Linked DNA regions of Homo sapiens: region 1 is linked to region 2. Evidence: fine-mapped expression QTL. A gene starts in region 2. The other region holds a variant in brackets. All regions are shown on one strand. Distances are from middle to middle.

Region 1 (16,182 bases), 220 kb before region 2:
AATTTGTGCTGGAGATCTAATGGGGAGGTAGACAGAGGCAAAGCACTGGTTGGTCTAGGTAGTGGCCCTGGTGGGGTTTGGGCTGGGTGGGAGCATCATGGTAGCTGCCTTGATTTCCCCAGGTGATGGTGTGGATCCACGGTGGTGCGCTTGTTTTTGGCATGGCTTCCTTGTATGATGGTTCCATGCTGGCTGCCTTGGAGAACGTGGTGGTGGTCATCATCCAGTACCGCCTGGGTGTCCTGGGCTTCTTCAGGTGAGACTAGGGCTGGGCTGGGCAACCCGGGCTGAGCGGGGCCAGGACAGCCCTGTGATCCCTGTCCCTGCTACTTCTCAGCACTGGAGACAAGCACGCAACCGGCAACTGGGGCTACCTGGACCAAGTGGCTGCACTACGCTGGGTCCAGCAGAATATCGCCCACTTTGGAGGCAACCCTGACCGTGTCACCATTTTTGGCGAGTCTGCGGGTGGCACGAGTGTGTCTTCGCTTGTTGTGTCCCCCATATCCCAAGGACTCTTCCACGGAGCCATCATGGAGAGTGGCGTGGCCCTCCTGCCCGGCCTCATTGCCAGCTCAGCTGATGTCATCTCCACGGTGAGTGCCCTCAGCTGAAGAGGCCTAGGCCTGCTCCCTCCCCTCATATCCCTCAGAGCCTCTGTCTGTTAAACGGGGATGACAAGGGCCATCGGGAGCATGCTCCAGGAGCTGCTGCCTACCGTGGAATTGCTGGGGGGCTCCAGGGTCAGAATTCACATCCTTCTGCCATTGCAGAGGCCGAGCTTGTTCTGTGGCTCCTGTGCAAAGTTGTCACCCTAGGGATCCCCACCATGAGGAGAATCATCTAGGCGGATGGGATGGCCCCTGTGTCTGGGACTTCTGAGTTGGAACAGTGTCAGAACTGCAGGAACTCATACGAAGTACCCTCTGAGATTTGGGGTACCCCTGTTCTTGGCCAGGGCCTTGGGCAAACTCCTCTCCTCTACCTGGAAGGATGAGCCAGCCCCTGCCTGGTCCCTTTACAGGTGGTGGCCAACCTGTCTGCCTGTGACCAAGTTGACTCTGAGGCCCTGGTGGGCTGCCTGCGGGGCAAGAGTAAAGAGGAGATTCTTGCAATTAACAAGGTTGGTCTAAATGGATGTGGGTGTAGAGGAAGGGGTGCAATAGGCATGGGGCTGGCAGGCCTGCACGGCCGTCATATTCCCTGGGCACATTACCTCATCTGCATGCCTGAGTGTCATAGCCCTGGGTCGGGACTGAAGGTCGGTGCATGCTGAGCCAAACAGTAATCTCCTGGGGTGGGTATGAGCATCCAGGGATAAACTGGGAAGGAGTGGAAGGTACTCAGAGGGCATCGGAAGATGTCTGGGACCTGACCTTGTTCCCTGACCTTACATTTCCCCTCAGCCTTTCAAGATGATCCCCGGAGTGGTGGATGGGGTCTTCCTGCCCAGGCACCCCCAGGAGCTGCTGGCCTCTGCCGACTTTCAGCCTGTCCCTAGCATTGTTGGTGTCAACAACAATGAATTCGGCTGGCTCATCCCCAAGGTGAGCCCCAACCCAAGCCCACAAGTGCCTGGGGAGCCCATCTGGTAGTGGGGGGTGTTCAGGGCTTCATAGCTCCAGGCTCATCCCATCCCCAGCTACAGACTCTCTCCTGGCCATCCAGGTCATGAGGATCTATGATACCCAGAAGGAAATGGACAGAGAGGCCTCCCAGGCTGCTCTGCAGAAAATGTTAACGCTGCTGGTAAGGCTCCTGGGGTCCCTCGCCAATGGAGACGGGCTCCTCTCCTGTCCTGAGACAGAGGAAATTCAACCCCCAGATACCCTTCCTATGTAGTGACCCCCATGAGCAAAGGCCTGGGTGTGTGTGTTTAGGGGTGGGGTCACCTCAGAGCCTCGCCTTTGCTCCCCCTTCCTGTGCCATCCCCAAGCCCGAGACCACCTCCTCCCTGCCCCTGGCATCCAGTCTAACCTGCCTCTTCCTGATCCACCTGGGGTAGATGTTGCCTCCTACATTTGGTGACCTGCTGAGGGAGGAGTACATTGGGGACAATGGGGATCCCCAGACCCTCCAAGCGCAGTTCCAGGAGATGATGGCGGACTCCATGTTTGTGATCCCTGCACTCCAAGTAGCACATTTTCAGTGTGAGTATATTTGGACCAAAGCCTGGCGGGCAGGGTACAGCTCAGGGCTGTGGGTCCCAGGTGAGACCTGCTGCTGTCCGGGTCAGCACTCATGTTTATTGGGCTCCGGGGACACTTGACATCCATCATTGCAGTAAATCCTCATGGCTAGCCCAAGAATCCGACATTTCCCCCATTTCACAGACGAGCAAATTGAAGTTAGGGACCTTCAGTGACTTGCCCAAGATGACACAGCAAAGAATCGCAAGTCCTTTCCTCTATTCCTGCCCCAGCCTGGGGCTCCACACCCCATTGTCCAGATTCCAGCCAGCTTTGGACCTAGGTATCTTATCACCATGGGTGAGGCAAGAAGTCTTCAGGGGGAGGGGCCACCGTGTCATGGGCTGTCCACCCCACAGGTTCCCGGGCCCCTGTGTACTTCTACGAGTTCCAGCATCAGCCCAGCTGGCTCAAGAACATCAGGCCACCGCACATGAAGGCAGACCATGGTGATGAGCTTCCTTTTGTTTTCAGAAGTTTCTTTGGGGGCAACTACAGTGAGTCTTCTTCCTTTCCCGGGAGGTGGGCTGGGATTCTGGCTGGGTCTCTGAGCGATGATTGATTGTCCTCACTGCCCAGATAAGGAAACTGAGGCTCAGAGAGAGGATGAGATCAGGTGTCCAAGGTTTTATAGCTCCAAAAGCTGCACCAGGATTAGAATTCACGACTCTTCAGACTGTGAGCTGTGCTCCCTCTGCCTCTCCCCAGCCATGGGTGTCTGGCCTGGTGCAGAACAGGTGTTTCAGGGACATGTTTATTTCTTCAGTGACTCCCAGAGATAGAAGGAAGAAGGGGCCTTTGGGGCCATGAAGGAGCCCAGGATGGAGTCAGCCAGAGCCTGGTCTACAGGGAAAGTTTGGAAAAGGGGAGGGCTGGCTTCTGAGGGCAGTGGAAGAAAAAGCGGAGAAGCAGGACTGGGGACCGAGGTCTCGGGGGCCAAGGACGAGCTCCACCTGGGATGCTGAGGTTGGACATCCTGATGAAGACACATGTCCTCTTCCTCTTGGCAGTTAAATTCACTGAGGAAGAGGAGCAGCTAAGCAGGAAGATGATGAAGTACTGGGCCAACTTTGCGAGAAATGGGTGAGACAGCACACCCCTGCCTCAACCTCCCCGATTGGGGGACTTGTGCCCATCCAGTGCTCTCCTAGTCTGGGGTGACCTCATGAGCACACCCGCATCCTTCATCACATGATGGCCCCTTCCCCAGCTCCGGGACCCACTCAGACAGGGTGGGGGTGC[G/A]TGGGGCAGTGGACACGCTCTATCTCTCCAGTCTACCTGGAGGGTGGGCGCCAGTGCTGTGCCACCGTCAGGGCCTCCCTCTCAGAGAGAGGGACACAACAGAGCTGGCTGCCCTCCCCCAACCCCCACTGGTGCTGACACTAGCCAGAGGGAGCTTATTTCCTGTTTCTGGAAGCCTCCCCACTCATTCCCCAAGCCCACCTGGCCTGCTTGGCTGCCTTGCCTGACCAGACTCAGGGTGCTCAGGTCTGGGCTTCGGGGGCCCAGAGTGACCCTCATACTGCCCTGCTGGGATGGCATGTCTACAGGAACCCCAATGGCGAGGGTCTGCCACACTGGCCGCTGTTCGACCAGGAGGAGCAATACCTGCAGCTGAACCTACAGCCTGCGGTGGGCCGGGCTCTGAAGGCCCACAGGCTCCAGTTCTGGAAGAAGGCGCTGCCCCAAAAGATCCAGGAGCTCGAGGAGCCTGAAGAGAGACACACAGAGCTGTAGCTCCCTGTGCCGGGGAGGAGGGGGTGGGTTCGCTGACAGGCGAGGGTCAGCCTGCTGTGCCCACACACACCCACTAAGGAGAAAGAAGTTGATTCCTTCATTCACTTCGCCATTCATTCATACTTCCGTCCATCCATTCAGAAAGCATTTATTAAGAATTTACTCAGGCATGATGGCCCATACTTGTAATCCCAGCTATTGGGAAGGATGAGATGGGAGGATGGCTTGAGGCCAGAGGTTTGAGACCGACCAGCCAGGGCAACACAGTGAGACCCCTTCTCAAAAAAAAAAAAAAAAAAGAGAGAGTGTGTGATTAGAAGCTAAATAGGAAAGTTTTGAGCTTCAAGTCAGTGAGGAGTAAAAAAGATTTTTAAAAAGCAAAGAAAACAAAATATAAGGGAAAAATATGAGAAAAATAAAAATAAAAAGAGAATAATAGGCCAGGCACTGTGGCTCATGCCCCTAATCCCAGCACTTTTGGGAGGTCAAGGTGAGCAGAACACCTGAGGACAGGAGTTTGAGACCAGCCTGCCCAACGTGGTGAAACCCCATCTCTATGAAAAATACAAAAATCAGACGGGCACAGTGGTGGTGCCCACCTGTGATCCCAGCTACTCAGGAGGCTGAGGCAGGAGAATTACTTGAACCTGGGAGGCAGAGGTTGCAGTGAGCTGAGATTGTGCCACTGTACTCCAGCCTGGGCAACAAGAGCGAGACTCCGTTTCCAAAAAAATAAGAGAGAATAGAAGAAGCTACTGCATGATGTTAGTTACCAAGCCTGCCATGGGTCCTCTCTTGCTAGACACACTCCATAGATCCCCCCACTGAGCTGTGGATGGGCAAACCCCGGTGGAATCCCACCCTCCCCAACACCCCACTGAGCCCTGGGCCCCCTCCTCCCTTCCTCACCTCCACCTTCTCCCTGCCTTCTCTCTTCTCTCGTCTGAGCCCCCAGGCCTTTTCCACTTTGAGGGAGGTGCTTCGAAGAATGTTGCCCACACCTAAGTGTTAGAAGCCTATGTCCGTTCATCCCTGAGAGGTCTGAAAGAATAAAAATAAATTCTAAAAAAAGCCTCTGTCTGCCTCTCCCCAAGCCCCAAGTGCTCTTACATCTGTGAGTGGCCAGGCCGGGTGCGGTGGCTCACACCTGTAATCCCAGCATTTTGGGAGGCCAAGGTAGGCGGATCACCACATCAGGAGATCGAGACCATCCTGGCTAGCATGGTGAAACTCCGTCTCTACTAAAAGTACAAAAAATTAGCCTGGTGCAGTGGCACACGCCTGTAGTCCCAGCTACTAGGGAGGCTGAGGCAGGAGAATCCCTTGAACCCGGGAGGCAGAGGTTGCAGTGAGATGAGATTGCACCACGGCACTCCTGCCTGGGCCACAGGACGAGACTCAGTCTCAAACAAACAAACAAAGAAACAAAAACAAAAAACAAAAAAAATCTGTGAGTGGCCAATAGGAAACCTGGTTACTGGAATTCCTAGTGTTTTAGTCCATTCAGTTGCTATAGCAAAAATACTACCGATTAGACCCGGTGCAGTGGCCCACACCCATCATCACAACACTTTGGGAGGCCGAGGTGGGTGGATCACTTGACCCCAGGAGTTTGAGACCAGCCTGGCCAACATGGTGAAACGCTGTCTCTACTAAAAAGACAAAAATTAGCCAGGCTCTGTGGTGCACACCTAGAATATCAGCTACTCGGGAGGCTGAGACACGAGTATAACATGAACCCAGGAGGTAGAAGTTGCAGTGAGCTGAGATTGCACCACTGCACTCCAGTCTGGGCGACAGAGACCCTACCTCAAAAATAAGTAAATAAATAAATAAACAAATAAATAAATATTACCGGTTAGGCCGGGTGCAGTGGCTCATGCCTGTAATCCCAGCACTATTGGAGGCCGAGGTGGGACTCCTGAACTTGAGCCCAGGAGTTCCAGACCAGCCTAGGCAGCATGGAGAAATGTCATCTCTACAAAAAAATAGAAAAATTATTTGGATGTGGTGGCACACACCTATAGTCTCAGTTACTCAGGAGGCTGAGGCGGGCAGATCACTTGAGCCTGGGAGGTCAGAGCTGCAGTGAGTCGTGATTGCACCACTACACTCCAGCCTGGGCAACACAGCAAGACCCTGCCTCAAAAAAATAGGGCTTCCAATACTGATATAAAACTTAAAATACTACAGGTTAATATTATAAACTGGGTGCCTTATAATGACAGAAATGTATTGCTTACAGTTCTCGAGGCTTGGACATCGAGGATCAAGGTGCCAGCAGATTTGGTGTCTGGCAAGGACTTGTTCTCTGGTTAATAGATGGCAACCTCAGGCCAGGTGCGGTGGCTCACACCTGTAATCCCAGCACTTTGGGAGGCCAAGGTGGGGTATGACCTGAGGTCAGGAGTTCAAGACCAGCCTGGCCAACATAGTGAAACCCCATCTCTACTAAAATACAAAAATTAGACGGGTGTGGTGGCAGGTGTCTGTAATCCCAGCTACTCAGGAGGCTAAGGTAAGAGAATCACTTGAACCTGGGAGGCAGAGGTTGCAGTGAGCTGAGATCACAGCACTATACTCCAGCCTGGGCGACAGCACGAGACATTATCTCAAAAATAAAAAATAAAACAAGCCACCCACCCAACTATCGATGTCCTGCAGAGGTGCCTAACCCCACTTTTGTCAGAAGCCAGACCGGGCTTGTCCATAGGCCCCTGAGCCTGGGCCTCCTGCACAGTGGCCAGGAAAGCCAAGCTGCTTCCTCAGTCGCCCGTCTCCTGAAGGTTGCTCTTCTTCTCAGTGGTTCTACAGACACTGTAAGGCCCATACTCACAGGATATTAGCACACCTGCTAAGAGATTCCTGTCCGCTGGCTACCAGGGGCCTCTCCATCCAGGGAAATGTCCTCTCACGTTTCAGAATTTCCCTGCCAACCTTTCAACCCCCTGAGCATCCCCAAATTCACCATGTGTGTCCACACGATTACTTTTCCTACTTACCTCATTGTTGTCCCTAGACTTTTCTCCTTCCCCGCTCTGCAAAAAACCTCATATTTTATCTCAGTGTGCAAAGGTGGCCAATTGTGTTCAATCGGCCTCTTGGTTTCACCAAAGTATATTCTCTCTGTCATTAAGAGGCTATATTTCTGTCCCATAAACCCTAATAATCCCCTTATGCCCCTACTGCTGATCAACTTGCCTCTCAGGGCACCCGTTTTCCATGGGGAAAGTCTCCCTTCTTTCCAGCCAGGGCCCGTAAGTCCAATTACAGAGCCTTTTGAAGTTTGGGGTGAAAGACCAGGACACCCACATTGCCCATTTTGGCCACCAGGTGGCAGACAAGGATAATATTAAGCCTGGAATGACTTGAACTTGAGAGAGGGAGGAGACTTTCCTTTCAATGAACACTGATTGGTGCATAATGTTCCCACTACATTCTGAAAGCGTTTATTGTGCACCAGCTGCATGCATGCCTCTGTATGTTTTTCAGTTCTGCAGATGTACAATATACCTTCCCAAAGTCAGTTCCCAGGATTACTGTTTAGACTTAATAGTTCTTTTTTTAACAGCTTTATTGTGAAATAACTTACAATTTACCCCCTGCTCCCCCTTTTTTTTTTGAGACAAGGTCTAGTCCTGTCACCCAGGCTAGAATGCAGTAGTGCAATCACAGATCACTGCAGCCTCCACCTCCGGGCTTCAGACACTGTAAGGCCCATAGTTACAGGACCATAGTACACTCCCGTTCCCAGACCAGTTGGTCGCCTCTGGCCTGGCAGGGCTCCCAGTGTCTCGGGACCTCCAGGTGACGCGCCTGCCTCCCCTGCTGCAACAGAGGCCTGGGAGTGCCGGGTCCCCATCGCTCGGAGCGGCAGGCGCTCGTGAAATGTTCGTCAAGAGGATAAATGACCATGGCCCTGGTCTCCGCGGGAGGTGAGGAAACTGAAAGCCACCGAGGAAAAGGGGGGCGCTCCTTAAGAAGTGCCGCGGTCACGTGTACGTTTCAAAAGAATGGCGTGACTGAGTAGGGAGGGGACCGCGGAGACCCTCAGACCCTGGACTGTAAGGAGATGAGGGGCCGTGAAGGGGAACCCAGGAAACTGAGTCCTGAAAGCAAGGAGGAGCTTCCAGAATGAAGGGCGCCGTCACGCCTCCCTGCCTTTGCTCAAGCGGTTCCTTCACCCCGATCAAGTTCCTTCCCATTTCTCCAACTGTGGGGATCCTGAACGTGCACCTCCTCAGAGAAGCCCTCTTGGGATCTCCAATTCTAGTTTATTGCCCCCTCCTATCGATCCCCCAGCGCGCTCATCGGGCCTGTGGACAACGACAGGTTTGAGGAGAGGATTCTCTGGATCGCGGAGGACTACAGAAGCCGCGCAGCCCCTTCTGAGGATGCCAAAGGGGCCCGGGCAGAAGGGAAGTGGCCGTGCCCGGGCCTGCCTACCACTAGATCCCCACCCACCTATGACTGTTCAGTCCTGCTCTCCTACCAACCCACCTTTCCCGGCCCAAGTCAGCGCACCCCGCCGACTCCCTGCCCAGTCCAAACTCCGAGGCTGGGCAAGGCACTGGATCCACGGCTGGACCGACCCGGGGCAGCCTCTGGGTGAACAGCAGCGTGTCCGTCGGCAGAGAACCGAGACCAGCGAGCCGACCATGCGGCTGCACAGACTTCACGCGCGGCCGAGCGCGGTGGCCTGTGGGCTCCTGCTGCTTCTCCTCCAGGGTCACTATGAGGCTCCCGCGGAGGGGTGACAGGGACCGGGCTCAGATCTGCCAAATGCTGCGGAGGCAGAACCTGACAGTGCGGGAGGGCAGGCGCCTGGGAGGTAGGAGCTGGTGGAGATGACAGCGTGGAACTCGTGAGCCCCACGCAACGCCTCCCTGCCGCCCAGGGTGGGCTCCTAGAAGCACAGAAATGGTCGGGCTGCGGGACACCACAGCGAGGAACCAGCGGAGTACAGGGGCCCCAGGAGCGCCGGGACATGCCAGGCCGGGTAGACAGCCTCGGGTCGGAGTGAGTGAGGGATTGGGGTGTGGGGATTCAGTCCATTTCCCTCTTACGATTGTGGCTGTAGCCTGTGCTGCCGGCCGGTAATAACAGTAATAGCTTCTGGCAGCAGCTGGCTCTCAATGTGTGGCGTCCTTGGCCAAGGGGGCGCGCTGAGCCCTCCAAAGGGGCCTCAGACAAGGTTAGTGGTCCTTGGGGAACAGAAGCCCCCAGGCTCCAAATCCTAAAGCAGATCTAAGAGGCCGCAGTGGCTGGGTGCGATTGGCTCACTCCTTTAATCCCAGCATTTTGGAAGGCCAAGGGGGAGAATCGCTTGATCCCAGGAGTTGGAGGCCAGCCTGGGCAACATAGACTCAGAGTGTACAAAATAATTAAAAGAAATTAATGGGCTGTGGTGGCCTGTGACCTCTAGTCCCAGCTTCTTGGGAGGCTGAGGTGGGAGATCACTTTAGTAGGGGAGGTTGAGGCTGCAGTGAGCCTTCATCACACTATTGCACTCCAGCCTGGGTGAAAAAACAAAAATCTGTCTCCAGAAACAAGAGCCAAAGAGCTCGTGGTGTCCCTCACGCCATTTACCTCATCCTGGGCAAGGGCACAACTTGGCTTCCAGGGCAAAGGTGAAGGCTCTGTGTGCCTGCCAGGCTTCTCCAGGCCCTTTTCGAAGCTCCGGGAGTGTTTTGGCCTTTGGTCCTCTCACCTGAAACTCTCCTAAGTGTATGATCTGACTGCCTCTCCCGACCCTTTCCCAATTTAATCTGCCCAGGTGGAGTCCATATTCGCCCCATGGTGCACTCCTGCAGGGCTTCCTCCCATGCCTGCCCTTGATCACATTCTAGAATTCACCAGGAGCCCAGCAGGAAGATCTGCCTGGCCTCACAGATGGCTACCTTTTGAAATATTTTGGGCCAGACACAGTGGCTCACACCTGTTATCCCAGCACTGTGTGAGGCAGAGATGGGAGGATCACATGAGGCTAGGAGTTAGAGACCAGCTTGGGCAACAAGACTTGTCTCTACCAAAAAAAAAAAAAAAAAAAAAAAAAGGACTCTCAGGCATGGTGGCACACAACTGTGTTCCCAAGTACTTGGGAAGTTGAGATGGGGGGATCTCAAGCCCAGGAGGTGGGGGCTGCAGTGAGCTGCAATCACACCACTGCACTCCAGCCTGGGCAACAGACGGAGTCCAATATTTAGATGTATATTATATTATATTATAAACATATGTGTGTCTGACAAATATATTATATATTTTGGTAGAGACAGGCTTTCACCATGTTGGCTAGGCTGGTCTCGAACTCCTAACCTCAAGTGATCCACCCACCTCGGCCTCCCAAAGTGCTAGGATTACCAAAGTCACCCACTGCGACTGACCTGTTTTCTGACTTTTTATTATGAAACTGGGCTCAGATTTCCCAAATCCTACAGAAGCAGAACCTGAGGTTCCAAAAGGGAAAGTGCCAGGCAGGTGGGAGCTGGTGGGAATAAGAACAGCAGGTGAACCTCCCTGAGGCACAGAGAGGGTCAAGCCTGCTCAAGGGCTGCACAGCACCAAAGGATGAGCCAAGTCTGAGGTAGAAACAGTAGTATAAGAAATCCAACATACCCATTGTCCGTCTTCAGCAATAACAAAGATCTTGTTTTTGTTTCTGTTTTAAATCAGCTTTCTCAGGTTGAATATAACCTGGTGTTTTCCGGATGGCCACCTCTCTCTTGCATCATTATTTGAAACAAATCCCAGACATCATATCATCTGTAAAGTTTTCATCATGTCCTACTAAAGAAAAGGAACATATATATGTATGTGTGTATTTCCACAACATAATATGTTCTCAATTTAATCAAATATATGGTCGTGTTCTTTAGTATTTATAAATGATACTTGTATTAATACAAGTTTTTTTTTAAATCAGGATTCAAATAACGTTCATACTTTGCAAATAAGTAGATATTTCTTTTTTCTCTTTTTTTTTTTTTTTTGAGATGGAGTCTCACTCTGTTGCCCAGGCTCACTGCAACCTCTGCCTCTTGGGTTCAAGGGATCCTCATGCCTCAGCTCCCAAGTAGCTAGAATTACAGGCACATGCCACCACGCCTGGCTAAGTTTTGTATTTTTAGTAGAGATAGGGTTTCACCATGTCAGCCAGGCTGGTTTCAAACTCCTGACCTCAGGTGATCCACCCACCTTGACTTCTTAAAGTGCTTGGATTACAGGCGTGAGCCTCCATGCCCCACCAATTGTCTTGGCTTTATAGTTAGGAGTGGAATTGCTGAGTCATATGGCAACTCCATGTTTAATCCCCTGAAAAACTGCCAGACTGTTTTCCAAAGCAGCTGCACCATTTTCCTTTCCCCTGGCAATGTATGAAAGTTCCAAGTTTTCCATATCCTTACCAACACTTATTATTATCTGTCATTTTTATGTGTTTCTTGAATCTCTTTCAGTCTTCAGATTTACCATCTGCCTCTCTTTAATTTTCTTTCTAAATTTTGTTGCATGTGGAAGAAACCAGTTTATTTGTTCTGGAGAGGATCCCACCATTTAGGTTTTGCTGATTGCATCCGGGTGGTGTCTTTTAACAGTTCTTCTATCCCCTGTCTACTGTGTAAACTTGTATTTATATTCTAGAGGCATAATCAGATTTGGGTTTTAGGTTTTATTTTGTTTTGTTTTTTGGAGGACCACTTCACATGTGGTGCTGCATACTTCTGATAGAAAATATGTAACGTCTGATTATCTTGCTTGTTGGGATACCACAAAATGAGTGGTTGACATCACAGTGAGAATTCAATGTGCATTTCTCTTACTATGAATGACTTAAAGATCTCTTCGTTTATTTGAGAGACACTGATTTGTAGTGCTTATTCTGAACACATTCTTATGCTACTTTTTCTGTTGTATACATGACATATTCTTTGTTTGTAGAAATTCTTTATCGATTAAGAGGACTGATTTTCTCTGTTAGGCAATTTTCCATCACTTCCTCCCTCCCTGATCCCCACAGCAGTCACACTATGTTTTTTCTGGAGACTGGGTCTTGCTTTGTTGCCTAGACTAGAGTGCAAAGGCGGGATCATAGCTCATGCAGCGTCGAATTCCTTCTGCCTTAGCCTCCTGAGTAGCTGAGTAGCTGGCCCAGAGTTTGAGACCAGCCTAGCCAACACGGTGAACCCCTGTCTCTACTAAAAATACAAAAATTAGCTAGGCTTGGTGGTGCACACCTATAATCCTACATATTCAGGAGGCTGAGACACAAGAATCACTTGAACTCAGGAAGCGGAGGTTGCAGTGAGCCAAGATCGCACTACTGCACTCCAGTCTGGGTGACAGAGCGAGGGTCTGTCTCAAAAAAAAAAATAAATAAATACTACCGGTTTCGGCCAGGCACGGTGGCTCATGCCCATAATCCCCGCACTTTTGGATGCCGAGGTGGGCCTCCTGAACTTGAGCCCAGGACTTTGACGCTAGCCTAGGCAGCTTGGAGAAACGCCATCTCTACAAAAAAAAAATTCAAAAATTGGCTGGATGTGGTGGCACGCACCTGTAGTCTCAGTTACTCAGTAGGCTGAGGCGGGCAGATCACTTGAGCCTGGGAGGTCAGAGCTGCAGTGAGTCGTGATTGTGCCACTACACTCCAGCCTGGGCAATACAGCAAGACCCTGTCTCAAAAAAAAAAGTTTCCTATACTGATATAAAACTTAAAAAAAAATTTTACAGATTGATGTTATAAACTGGGTGCCTTCATGTGACAGAAATGTATTGCTTACAGTTATAGAGGCTTAGAAGTCCAGGATCAAGGTGTCAGCAGATTTGCTGTCTGGCAAGGACTTGTTCTCTGGTTAATAGATGGCAGCCTCTCATTGTGTGCTCCCCTGGAGGAAAGGGAAAACAAGCTCCATCTGGCCTCTTTTGTAAGGACACTAATCCCCTTCACCTCCTGAAGTCCCCACCTCTTGACACCATCACATTGGGGATTAGGTTTCACCATACAAATTTTTGAGGCAATACAAACATTTAAACCATAGCACTTAGAGCTCCCAGATTTCAGCCACCAAGGTCACCAACTACTGAAAATGTAAAAGTTCCTATACTCCCCTTTTGTCCCACTAAATGTCGTCTATCATTGACATTTAAAACAAGCCACCTTTACAGGCCAGGTGCGGTGGTTCATGCCTGTAATCCTAGCACTTTGGGAGGCCAAGCCAGGTGGATCACCTGAGGTCAGGATTTCGAGACCAGCCTGGCCAACAAGGTGAAACCCTGTCTTTACTAAACACAAAAATTAGCCAAGCGTGGTGGCACATCCCTGTAATCCCAGCTACTTGGGAGGCTGAGCCAGGAGAATTGCTTGAACCCTGGAGGCGGAGATCATAGTAAGCTGAGATTGTGCCACTATACTCCAGCCTGGGTGACAGAGCAAGACTCAATCTAAAAACAAAAACAAAAACAAACAAACAAAAACAAGCCACCTCCTCGCCTATCTGTGTCCTGCAGAGGTGACTCAACCCATTTTTGTAAGAAGCAAGACTGGGCTTGTCCACAGGCCCCTGAGCCTGGGCCTCCTGTACAGTTGCCAGGAAAGCCAAGCCGATTCCTCAGTGGCCGTCTCCTGAAGGTTGCTCTTCTTCTCAGTGGTTCTACAGACACTGTAAGGCCCCTACTCACAGGATCGTAGCACACTCGCGAAGATGTTTACCTGTGGGGTGTGCCCCGGAAGTGGGATTGAGGGTCCAAAGGTCCAGGCATATCTAAGAAAAGAGATTCCTGTTCCCTGGCTCCCAGGAGCCTCTCCACCCAGGGAGATGTTCTCTGGCCTTTCAGAATTCCCTTGCCAACCTTTCAGCCCCCTGAGCATCCCCGAACTCACCATGTGTGTCCATATGATTATTTTCCTACTTACCTCATTGTTGTCCCTAAACTTTTCTCCTTCCTGGCTTCGCAAAAATCCTCCTCATATTTTATCTCAGTGTGCAAAGGTGGCCAATTGTGTTCAATCGGCCTCTTGGTTTCACCAAAGTATATTCCCTCTGTCATTAAGAGGCTGTATTCTAGTCCCATAGACCCTAATAATCCCCTTATACCCCTACCTCTGACCAACTTGCCTCTCGGGGCACCGGATTTCCAGGGCGAAAGTCTCCCTTCTTTCCATCCACGGCCTTTAAGCCCAACTACAGCTTTTTGAAGTTTGGAGCGAAAGACCAGGACACCCACTTTGCCCATTTGGGCCACCAGGTGGCAGACAAGGATAATGTTAAACCTGGGCTGACTTGAACTTGAGAGAGCAGGGAGACTTTCCTTTCAATAAACACTGGTGCATAATGTTTCCACTACATTCTGAAAGCATTTATTGAACACCGGCTGCATGCCTGTCTCTGTATGTTTTTCAGTTCTGCAGAGGTACAATATAGTTTCCCAATATACATTCCCAGGATTACTGTTTAGACTTAATAGTTATTTTTTAACAGCTTTATAGTGAAATAACTTACAATTAAATTTACCTCCCCCCACCCTTTTTTTTTTTTTTTTTCTGAGGCAAGGTCTCGTTCTGTCACCTAGGCTGGAATGCAGTGGCACAATCACAGCTCACTGCAGCGTCCACCTCCTGGGCTCAAGCCATCCCCCACCTCAGCCTCCCAAGTAGCCAGGACCACAGGCACATGCCACCATGGCTGGAGAACTTAAATTTTTTTATTTTTTATTTTTGGTAGAGGCGAAGTCTCACTAGGTTACCCAGCTGGTCTCCAACTCCTAGGATCAAGTGATCTTTCCATCTAGGCCTCCCAAATTGGTAGGATTACAGGCAGATGTGAACCACTGTGCTTGGCCTAAACTCACCCATTTTCAGTGTGCAGTTTGATCACGTTGAGTAAATGTATAAGACATGCAAACACCACCACGTGGAGTTTTACAATATTTCTATCACTCCAAAATTCCCTCAAGCCCTTTTGCAGTCAATCGTCCTGATCCATGCTCCTAAGCAACCATCGAGTTGCTTTCTGTTGCTATAGTTTGCATTTTCTAGAATATGAATGAAATAATACAAATTATAAATTAATATGATAGTACTAATTATATAAATGAAATAACTTGCGATTGGCTTCTGTCAATTGTGTTTTTGAAATTCAACCAGTAGTTCTTTTCTTTTATCGTGGAGTGGTATTCCATGTATAAATATACTCCCTTTCTTTTTCTTTAGAGACAGGATCTTGCTATGTTGCTCAGGCTGGTCTTGAACTCCTGGGCTTAAACAATCCTCCCGCCTCGGCCTCCCAAAGTGCCGGGATTATAGAAGTGAGCCGGTGTGCCTCGCCAATATACGCAACTTTATTAATTCATCAGTGTAGGGGTGGCCTGCCCCTCCACACCTGTGGGTATATTTCATCAGGTGGGATGAGAGACTGAGAAAAGAAATAAGACACAGAGACAAAGTATAGAGAAAGAAAAGTGGGCCCAGGAGACTGGCGCTCAGCATATGGAGGACCTGCACCGGCACCGGTCTCTGAGTTCCCTCACTTTTTATTGATTATTATTTTCACCATCTCAGCAAGAGGAATGCGGCAGAAGAGCAGGGTGATAGTGGGGAGAAGGTCAGCAAGAAAACATGTGAGCAAAAGAATCTGTGTCATAATTAAGTTCGAGGGGAGGTAGTATGCCTGGATGTGCACGTAGGCCAGATTTATGTTTCTCTCTGCCCAAACATCTCAGTGGAGTAAAACATAACAAAGCAGCATTGCTGCCAACATGTCTTGCCTCCCGCCACAGGGCGTTTTTTTTCCTATCTCAGAATTGAGCAAATGTACAATCGGGTTTTATACCGAGACATTCCGTTCCCAGGGGCAGGCAGGAGACAGAGGCCTTCCTCTTATCTCAACTGCAAGAGGCCTTCCTCTTTTACTAATCCTCCTCAGCACAGACCCCTTATGGGTGTCGGGCTGGGGGACGGTCAGGACTTTCTCATCCCAAGAGGCCATATTTCAGACTATCACAGGCGGGGAGAAACCTTGGACAATACCCGGCTTTCCAAGGCAGAGGTCCCAGCAGCTTTTCGCAGTGCGTTGTGCCCCTGGTTTATTGAGACTAGAGAATGGTGATGACTTTTACCAAGCATACTGCTTGTAAACATTTTGTTAACAAGGCACGTCCTGCACAGCCCTAGATCCCTTAAACCTTGATTCCATACAACACATGTTTTTGTGAGCTCAAGGTTGGGGCAAAGAGGTTGGGGCAAATTGGCTGGGGCAAAGTT
Region 2 (9,320 bases):
TACCTTCTAGGACTTGCCCAGCCCACACCAGGTCGCGCACCGGCGATTTCTCCTGTAGAACAAAGAAGGAAATAGAGGGACCGAGAGGGGTGGGACTCGAACCCAAGTCTCCCACTCATCTCACCCCACCCCACCCCACTCCACCCCACCCCACCCCTCCACTCCACTCCACTCCACACATCCCATCCAGCCAGCCTTTTCTGCCTGCTGGTGCCTCGGCCGCTGTCCGAGCCCCGCCCCGCGGGCTTGCACGTGGCCCCCGCCTGACCCGGCGCCCCGGGGCGGAGTAGGGCGGAGCGGGCGGCAAACGCAGCACTTTCCGCGGCTTTGACGAGCCCGCAGCGGCCGGGCCCGAGCGCAGAGCCGGGCCGAGACTGCACCATGCAGGAAGCGCCAGCTGCGCTGCCCACGGAGCCAGGCCCCAGCCCCGTGCCTGCCTTCCTCGGCAAGCTATGGGCGCTGGTGGGGGACCCAGGCACAGACCACCTGATCCGCTGGAGCCCGGTGAGGGCCGGGGCCCCTCGATTCCCCCTGTGGTCCCGGGGTCCCTCCACGTCAGTGAACACCCATGCCCGCCCAACCCCCTCCTGAGACTGGGCCGTGGATCCCCGGATTTGGCCATTCAGAGAAGTTCACCTTGGAGGGGGTGTGCGAGAGGGGGGTTTCCTCTGCGGCCGAAGAAGGGTTAGGAGCCTGCCTTCTGAAGACCTAGAGTCCGAGGGACCTTCGAGGCCATTTAGTTCCCACCCTACCCCATCCGACAGATGGGAAAACAGAGGCCGGGAGATGGGAAGGGCTGGTCTAGCTCAGGGTCACATTGCGGGGCTGGGAACCCCGTCAGCCTCTCCTTTCTGAGAACTGAGTATGGAGTCAGGGTCTGGCTGGGGGTAGGGACTCACTGTGGTCGCTCCAGGCTAGGCCTCGGAGCCCGTTCTGGCCTGGCCTCGACCCATATCCCCGTAAGCGGCAGGCCTGGACCCAAGAGTGAGCATGAGTGTGTGCGCGCGCTGGAGCGCAGGACTGGCCGTGAGCGGGCACCGCTCACCCTCCTGGTCTCCGCCCGCACGGTGGGCGGGCGGCGTTCTTGGTAGAGCGGGACCAGTTTCCTCGTAAGCGACCAGAGCCGTTTCGCCAAGGAAGTGCTGCCCCAGTATTTCAAGCATAGCAACATGGCGAGCTTCGTGCGCCAACTCAACATGTGTGAGTCCCTACGGCCGGGCGGGGAGCGGGGATGGGGGACTCGGTGCCGGGGATGGGGCGACCCACGCCCCCACGCCCCACTCCCCAGACGGTTTTCGGAAGGTGGTGAGCATCGAGCAGGGCGGCCTGCTTAGGCCGGAGCGCGACCACGTCGAGTTCCAGCACCCGAGCTTCGTGCGCGGCCGCGAGCAGCTACTGGAGCGCGTGCGGCGCAAGGTGGGGGCGGCCTGCGGGAATGAGCAAAGAGGAGGAGGGGTGCTGGGACTGCCTGCCTTGCTCCTGCGACCCAGTCCCGACGGTGCCTCCCGCCTGCAGGTGCCCGCGCTGCGCGGCGACGACGGCCGCTGGCGCCCGGAGGACCTGGGTCGACTACTGGGCGAGGTGCAGGCTTTGCGGGGAGTGCAGGAGAGCACCGAGGCGCGGCTGCGGGAGCTCAGGCAGTGCGGGGGCGGGCGGGGAAAGAGGGGACAGGGGTGGGGGGTTCGGGATGAGACCATAACTGGCCGGCCAGCAGTTCTGGGCAGCCCCTTCCTCTCTCCTGCCTTGGCGCCTCCATCTAGACTTATGGGCGATCTCTGGGATGGCCAGTCAGCGGGGTGGTCTCCTGGGTCCCCAGCCTCGCCATTCTGTGGGGGGTGGTGACTGGGCGAACTCTCAGATGCCTCAGCACCCTCCCACCCCTTCCTCAGGCAGAACGAGATCTTGTGGCGGGAGGTGGTGACACTTCGGCAGAGCCACGGTCAGCAGCACCGGGTCATTGGCAAGGTGTTCCTCTCCCCAAGCCTCGCTTCTCCCTCCCACTCCTCGACACCCCATTCCACCGCCCAGTCCCCCGGCGCCCCTGTTAAGCCTTCCTCCCTCACCTGGAAGTGCGGGGGTGGGGGGGCTGTGTCCAAAGTATGAATTAAACCTTTGCTTTCTCTTCAGCTGATCCAGTGTCTCTTTGGGCCACTTCAGGCGGGGCCGAGCAATGCAGGAGGCAAGAGAAAGCTGTGAGTGAGAAAGCCAAGAAGGCCCACACCCACTTCCAAGACCCCCCAGAAGTCCCCTTGCAAGGACCCCTTCTCCTCTGGAAACTCCTTCACCGGGAATCCTCATTCCTCCCCCTGCGCTACAGGCTTCCTCACCCCATCTAGGATCCACTTCCCCCCAACTCTGCCACCTGGTATCCCCACTCCCAGATCCTCCCATTCCAGGACCTTATTCCCAAATTCCTACCCCAGCAGCCCCTTCCCCCTCCGGCAAGGCTTCCCAACAGCTGAGACCCTGGGGCTCAAACCAGGTTCCCTCCCTCCCCTCTCTACCCACAAAGGGCCCCCATCTCTAGGGGGAGCCCCTTCCACCTCCAGCATGTGACTGACACCCTAGCAACAGGCCTCAGCTCTGCTGACTTGGCTGCTGGGGCCTGAGGGAGGGAGGGAAGTGCAGGCCGAGGTGCATGGGGGCTGACCCTGCCCCACCCCTGCCTGTGCCCTGATCGACCACACAGGTCCCTGATGCTGGATGAGGGGAGCTCATGCCCAACACCTGCCAAGTTCAACACCTGCCCTCTACCTGGTGCCCTTCTGCAGGACCCCTACTTCATCCAGTCGGTAGGTTTGTCTTCTTCCCCCTTCCCAAGGGCATGGCTGGGCTTATGGAGAGCCTGTTCCTTCTCCCCATCCCCTAAAAGGAAGAGAAGATGGAAGCCAGCCTTCCCCCCAACCAGACCCAGGCCCTCCAGCATGGACTGAGCCTCCTCCCTCAAACCTTCTCCCTTAGACCTGGCCCAGGTGGGTGTTGGTGGGGTTCTGGCTCTCCCTGTGCCTACAGGCCAAGGGCTGGGCCTAGCCTTCTACTTACAGCCTCTCCCAGAGACAAATTTGGGCCTTAGCCCTCACAGGGCCAGGGGCCCCATCATCTCTGACATCCCAGAAGACTCTCCATCCCCTGAGGGGACCAGGCTTTCTCCCTCCAGTGATGGCAGGAGGTAAGGGGGACAGGGCTGCCCCTGAGGGGCCTGTGGGGGAGGGCCTGGCAGCCCAGATGGCTGTAGGGGTAGAGGGAGAAGTCAGTGCCAGGGTCTGGTTGAAGCTTTTCTCTGGTGCAGGGAGAAGGGCCTGGCACTGCTCAAAGAAGAGCCGGCCAGTCCAGGGGGGGATGGCGAGGCCGGGCTGGCCCTGGCCCCAAACGAGTGTGACTTCTGCGTGACAGCCCCCCCGCCACTGCCTGTGGCTGTGGTGCAGGCCATCCTGGAAGGGAAAGGGAGCTTCAGCCCCGAGGGGCCCAGGAATGCCCAACAGCCTGAACCAGGGGATCCCAGGGAGATACCTGACAGGTGAGCAGAGCCCCAGCTGGCCCATGAGCCCTGTGATAGAACAGCCCTTACCAGCCCACAAAGCTTCCTAGCCATTTGACTCCATGATACTCACCTGATTTCTTGGCCCCAGCATCAGAGTTCTGTGGAAAGCAGAGCCTCCCAGTCAGGGCACTCAGCATCTGCGGAAGGGCTTAGGAACCTACATATGAAATGAGTTCCCTGGGGTGACTGCAAAGTACACAATAGTTTAAGAAGCATTGGTGGCTATGAGGTGGCTCATGCATGTAATCCCAGCACTTTGGGAGGCTGAGGCGGGCAGATCACTTGAGGTCAGGAGTTCAACACCAGCCTGGCCAACATGGTGAAACCCCCCGCCTCTGCTAAAAATACAAAAATTAGCTGGGTGTGGTGGCGTTTGCCTGTAGTCCCAGCTACTCAGGAGGCTGAGGCAGGACAGTCGCTTGAACTTGGGAGGTGGAGGCTGCAGTTAGCCAAGACAGTGCCATAGTGACATAGTGGGTGACATAGTGAAACTGTCTCCAAAAAAAAGAAAAGAAAGAAAGAAGGAAAGAGAGAGAGAGAGAGAAAGAAAAAAGAAAGGAAGAAAGAAAGAAATAAAGAAAGAAGAGAAAGAAGCATGGATATTGATACTTGCATAGGGAGGGGAAGGGTCCCAAAGCCCCAGCTCCACCACCCAAACTTCAGGTCCCAGGTAGGAAGCAGAGGCACTTTCTCTGTGCCATTTATGGCAGGAGTGGGGAGGTTGGGGGTGGAGAGAGGATGGGGATCCTCTCCTATCATTTTCTAAAGATTGGGGGATTAAAATCTTGATGCATCTGGGTTCCTTGGGAACTTAATGCGGGGTGGACACTGCAGGCCAAAAGCAGTTCTGTCTGCACAGGGGGCCTCTGGGCCTGGAAAGCGGGGACAGGAGCCCAGAGAGTCTGCTGCCTCCGATGCTGCTTCAGCCCCCTCAAGAAAGTGTGGAACCTGCAGGGCCTCTAGATGTGAGTACCCCTTCTGCTGAAACAGGGGCATGAGACCTGGTGGGGTCTAGCTCTCTGTGGAGCCTGGGGAGGGCACCACTGACCCAGAGCTCTCCTCAGGTGCTGGGCCCCAGTCTCCAAGGGCGAGAATGGACCCTGATGGACTTGGACATGGAGCTGTCCTTGGTAAGAAGTGGGTCGGGGAGGGCAGAGGCCAGGGGTGGCTGAGTCAAGCCCTCTGGTCCATAGCTGTTCTCTGTGAGCCAAAGCCGTGTCTCTAGAAGAATTGTCACAGTGATTTCCCAGCTGTCCCCCTCAGCTGCTAGGTCCCCTCCCCAGCTGCTCCCTGCGGTTCTCACGCAGATGCAGCCCTTGGTTCCAGAGCGGGGTGAGCCTGAGCTGGCGGTCAAGGGGTTAAATTCTCCAAGCCCAGGTAATGGTTGTGATGACTCCTACCTGGGAGGACGCCGTGATTGGGCTGAGCTACCTTGATTGAGTGAGGGGGCAATCTGCAATTTGCAGGGAAATCCTGAGTTCAGGCTGCACTGCAGAGCGTTCCTTGAGCCACCCATGCCCTCACCATTGGGCGAGAGTGGGGAGGTTAAGAATGGATGTTTTATCCTAACTGAGCAGAAGGCAGGCGGGCAGGGCTCTCCTTCCCTGAAGAAAGGAGGGGGAACATTTCCCCTGGTGAGCGCAGTCCCACTTCTCCTAGGGAAGGACCCCACGCTCGGGGCCCCACTCCTGCTGGATGTCCAGGCGGCCTTGGGAGGCCCAGCCCTGGGCCTGCCTGGGGCTTTAACCATTTATAGCACTCCTGAGAGCCGGACTGCCTCCTACTTGGGCCCGGAAGCCAGTCCCTCCCCCTAAGACCCCGCGCCTCTGAAGGGGCTTGGAACCAGTCCGCCGCTGCACATCCTTCTTGGCTTCCTGGCGCCCCCTATCGGGGGTGAGCGAAGCCCCCACTACTAAATGGCCTCTCTCCACTACCCCGACTATCCCTGCACATAAACTCCGTTTTTTTTTTTTCTGTTTCTGGTCTCTTTTCTCTATCGACCAGGGAGCACAGGAGTTATGGGTGGGGGGTGATTTTGCATTTGTAGAAGCGTCCAGATACTAGGTTTTTAATAGAGGAACCCCAGGAGGGTGGAGGTGCTTGGGGATCCGGTGCCTAGCTCCCTTGCTTAGGCCCGGGTCCAGGGCTGGCGCGGGGCCGCTGCAATCTCTGGGAAGCGGGGGCTTCTGGGTCGCGCTCAGCTCTGCAATGCATGCGTTCTGTGATCCTGGTGAGTTGGTATCCTTCTCTGAACTTCCTCTGTGACAGGCAGAGAAGAGGGGTCGATGACAAGATAGATGGAAAGCACCTGGAAATTGGCAGGCCCTGAGTGGGCGCTGGACGTGTGGGGCCGCGGGCCGAACTGCCCCCTCCTGGCCTCATCTCCTGGTGCGCCCCGGGTGGGGAGGGAAAGCTGACTACATGCACGTCCCCAGCCAGCGCGCGGCCTCCGCGGTGTGGCTCCTAGTGCCCGGGGAAGAACCCTCACCCTCCCTATTCCCAGCAGCCCTGGCCGCCCCGCCCCCGCCGCAGCTGCTGCACCCACCCCCACCCTGCCCGGCCCTTTCTGCACCGTCATCTCCTGCCCCGCCGAGGCTTGACCCGTGAGTGGGGACGCCCAAAACGGGCCAGACCGGGAGCCCCACTCCCGGCTGTGGGAGGGAAGGGAAACCGAGATTGGGCAGAATCAGCGCCCCACCACCCGCTGCGGCGCTCGGGGGTCGGGGGGGCGGGGTGGGTAGGACTGTGGGCCCCGCCCTGCCGCAGGACTCTCAAGCTCTGGGACTGGGTGGAGGGAGGTAAGGGGCGGGGGGGGAAAATCCGTGCAGTCGCACATGCGCAAAGGCTCTTCACTGTCCCAAGACCCTGGCTTCCTGGCCAAAGAGCCCGCGCAGCGAGGTGGGGTTGGGGGCTGGGACCCAGCTCCGTGCCCCGCCACCTGGCTCTCTGGGAAGAATCGGACCTGTCACCCTCGAAGGACTGGCCGCTAAATAACTTCGGTATTGAGAGCTGTGTGAGCCTCAAAGGGAGGGCCCAGACCAGCTGGAGTCTCTACCCCCAGACAGGATAAAGGGCAGGACTTGGGGTCATAGGAGGAGGCGGCTAACATGAAAACAACTTAGGTTGGAGAGAAGGAGGGGCCAATCCAATCTGCACCCTCCCTGTGTCTGTCCCGAGTAGGTGCTGTCCCCCTCTCCCTTCCTTTGCCCACCGATTGGAGGGACACTCTGGAAAACTCAGTTGAAGAAAGCGGAGAGTCTGCGTGTACACAGTGCAATGATGTCAGTTAATGCACTAGTGAGGGCATGTGTTGTTCACGGTACACAGAAGAAGGAACCACCAGCCCTTGGGACACTTAGGCATTGGTGTAGACAAGGGAACATTTGAGTCCTGGACGATGGATAGGTCCACGGAGCGGAGGGAGGAGAAAAGGATTCCAGTCTTAGCGATCAGCATCAGCAAAGGCTCCGAGGTGCCAGAGGCATAGTGAGTTCTCCGATCCCTGGCTGGTGGAGGGAAGCTGGGAAGGGCCTGGCTGTCCAGGGTGGTGGGAGGAGGCTAGAGTAGCCAGACCAGATATTTTGGGTTGTCTCTGATGGGCAGTGGGGTGTGGGGGGGAGGTAGATAGGTATTTAGGATGGAATTCTGCTAGACAGGAAAATATAGTTCAGTTCCTCATAGTTCAGGCTGGAGCAAGTAAGATTCCAGTTTTACCACTGAATCTCTGAGCCTGTCTCCTCATCTGTAAAATGGGAACAGCAATCCTAGCCCAGAGGGTTGTCAAAGTCACTGTGCTATCGGGCCTGGCAGAATGGGAGTGAGAGGGGCTCAGAGGGACTGTTACAGGACATGAGGTGACGATGGTGGGGTGGCAAGGCAGGAGCTGATGGAGACTCACTGAGAAGTGGAGAAGCAAGATTCATCACATACGGGACATAAAGGGAGATGGAGGGGCAGGGGGTAGTCCTGGTCTCGGCCTGGTGGGGAAGGGCTTCAATGGGAGGAAGCCAGGGTGTGAAGTGACGGGGGAGGTATAGTGTGACACCAGAGGGTACTGAGAAAGACCTGGGAGGCAGGATGGCGGCTAGGACTAAATCCTCTCTCCCAGAGAAGGCCGAGCCTCCTAGAGCCAGAGAAGGAGGCAGAGGAGGGACAGCAAAGGGAAGAAGAGATGGGAGGATGCCGTGTGAACAAAGCCAAGGCGGGGAGGAGAAGAAGTTATTATCAGGGTGGGGGTGGGCTGAGGGCATGGTTCAAGGCCTGATGTCTTTGCCTCCTAATGCCGGGGGTCTTGCTGGCTGGGTCAGGCCACTCACAGGAATGGGCCATAATCCTTGGTTGACAATAAATGGACAAAGCAGCTGGGTGCGGTGGCTCATGCCTGTAATCCCAACACTTTGGGAGGCCAAGGTGGGTGGATCACGAGGTCAGGAGTTCGAGACCAGCCTAGCCAACATAGTGAAACCCCGTCTCAACTAAAAACACAAAAAATTAGCTGAGCGTGGTGCGGGCACCTGTAATCTCAGCTACTCGGGAGGCTGAGGCAGAAGAATCGCTTGAACTCAGGAGGCAGAGGTTGCAGTGATGAGAGAATGTGCCACTGCACTCCAGCCTGGGCAACAGAGTGAGACTCTGTCAAAAAAAAAAAAAAAAAATGGATAAAGCAGATTGACTCTCCCTAATAGCCGCTGTTGGTAGAGATAGTCTCTCAAGAGCCAGGCATGGTGGTTCACATGGTGGTTCACAAAGTGCTGGTAATCCCAGCACTTTGGAAGGCTGAGATGGGAGGATTGCTTGAGGCCAGCAGTTCGAGACCAGCCTGATCAATATAGCAAGACCAGGACAGGCGCGGTGGCTCACGCCTGTAATCCCAGCACTTTGGGAGGCCAAGGCAGGTGGATCACGAGGTCAGGAGTTCAAGACCAGCCTGGCCAACATAGTGAAACCCCGTCTCCACTAAAATAAATAAATACAAAAAATATATATAGCAAGACCCCACCTCTAAAAAAAAAAAAAAAAAAAAAGGCTGGGCACGAGAATCACTTGAGCCTGGGAGGCGGAGGTTGCAGTGAGCCAAGATTGCGCCACTGCACTCCAGCTTGGGCAACAGCGAGACTCCATCTCAAAAAAAAAAAAAAAAAAGTCTCTCAAAATAGTGCGATCCATGGAGGAAAATCAGTCCAAGTTCGGCAAGTATTTGTCGGTATCCTGTATGAGCTAGGCCTTGGGTACTTCAAGATCAAACAACAAATGTCTGTAGGTAATTCCCAGGTCAGCAGGGAGCCAGGTGGGTCAGCAGAGAGACAGTCACATTAGGAGTTAGGGCTTCAGTAGGGAGACAGGTGGGTCTCAGGTGATGTCAAGAGATCTTGGTCAGAGCTAGGCCTGAAGAAGATTCTGGTATCTCTGCTCAGGAATCAGGGGACCAGGAAGGGCCAGGAGACTACATTGGGGTTGCACTATGGTGGTGGTGTTGGTGGGAGGGTGTAGAGGCGGGGCTTGTCCTGGAAAGTTGGATATCAGGGTCAAGGTAAGGGGAGAGGGGCAGGGAGGCTCTCAGCACTTTGTGCTCTGGGTTCAGAGGGGACTGGAGGATAGAGTATGGAAGCAGGGAGCTCTGATCCTGGGTTCTGCAGGGCCAAAGCAGGAGGCAGAAGGCTGGACTTAGTAAGTGGTGAGGATGGTGAGAGAAATATTCAGCAGTCAGACTGGAAAGGACTTGTCTGCAAGCTGGGTGTGGAGTATCAGCATCAATCCTAGGTTTTTCTGCCTGGTTAGG

What was found. PIP is the estimated chance that this variant, and not a neighbour inherited with it, causes the effect. A credible set is the group of variants that fine-mapping cannot tell apart.
Region 1: its variant is the best candidate, but not a certain one, in a credible set for the expression of NOL3 in whole blood (INTERVAL, PIP 0.55).

What each region holds. Positions count from the first base shown.
Region 1 is chr16:66,940,100-66,956,281 of GRCh38, forward strand. CES2 (carboxylesterase 2) reads left to right here. Exons shown (of 12, transcript NM_001365405.1): 4 at 123-256; 5 at 338-596; 6 at 1,025-1,123; 7 at 1,407-1,547; 8 at 1,669-1,749; 9 at 2,006-2,150; 10 at 2,549-2,686; 11 at 3,200-3,272; 12 at 3,740-4,997. The coding sequence ends at 3,926. LOC107984881 (a long non-coding RNA gene) reads right to left here and starts at 14,100. Exons shown (of 4, transcript XR_007065090.1): 1 at 14,024-14,100; 2 at 12,704-12,808; 3 at 10,542-10,712; 4 at 8,781-8,832. RefSeq lists enhancers at 459-958, 1,018-2,217 and silencers at 10,458-10,507, 11,353-11,553, 11,553-11,753. The variant G/A (reference allele first, on the strand shown) is at 3,432.
Region 2 is chr16:67,164,431-67,173,750 of GRCh38, forward strand. It overlaps NOL3 (nucleolar protein 3), which reads left to right and starts at 6,108. Exons shown (of 4, transcript NM_001276309.3): 1 at 6,108-6,144. It overlaps HSF4 (heat shock transcription factor 4), which reads left to right and starts at 315. Exons shown (of 13, transcript NM_001374675.1): 1 at 315-504; 2 at 1,092-1,200; 3 at 1,289-1,416; 4 at 1,516-1,640; 5 at 1,890-1,965; 6 at 2,128-2,192; 7 at 2,690-2,792; 8 at 3,045-3,169; 9 at 3,290-3,517; 10 at 4,401-4,506; 11 at 4,606-4,671; 12 at 4,849-4,918; 13 at 5,201-5,511. The coding sequence starts at 382. The coding sequence ends at 5,355. RefSeq lists silencers at 136-430, 180-419, 6,065-6,354, 7,995-8,158 and enhancers at 5,165-5,214, 5,705-5,854, 9,075-9,320.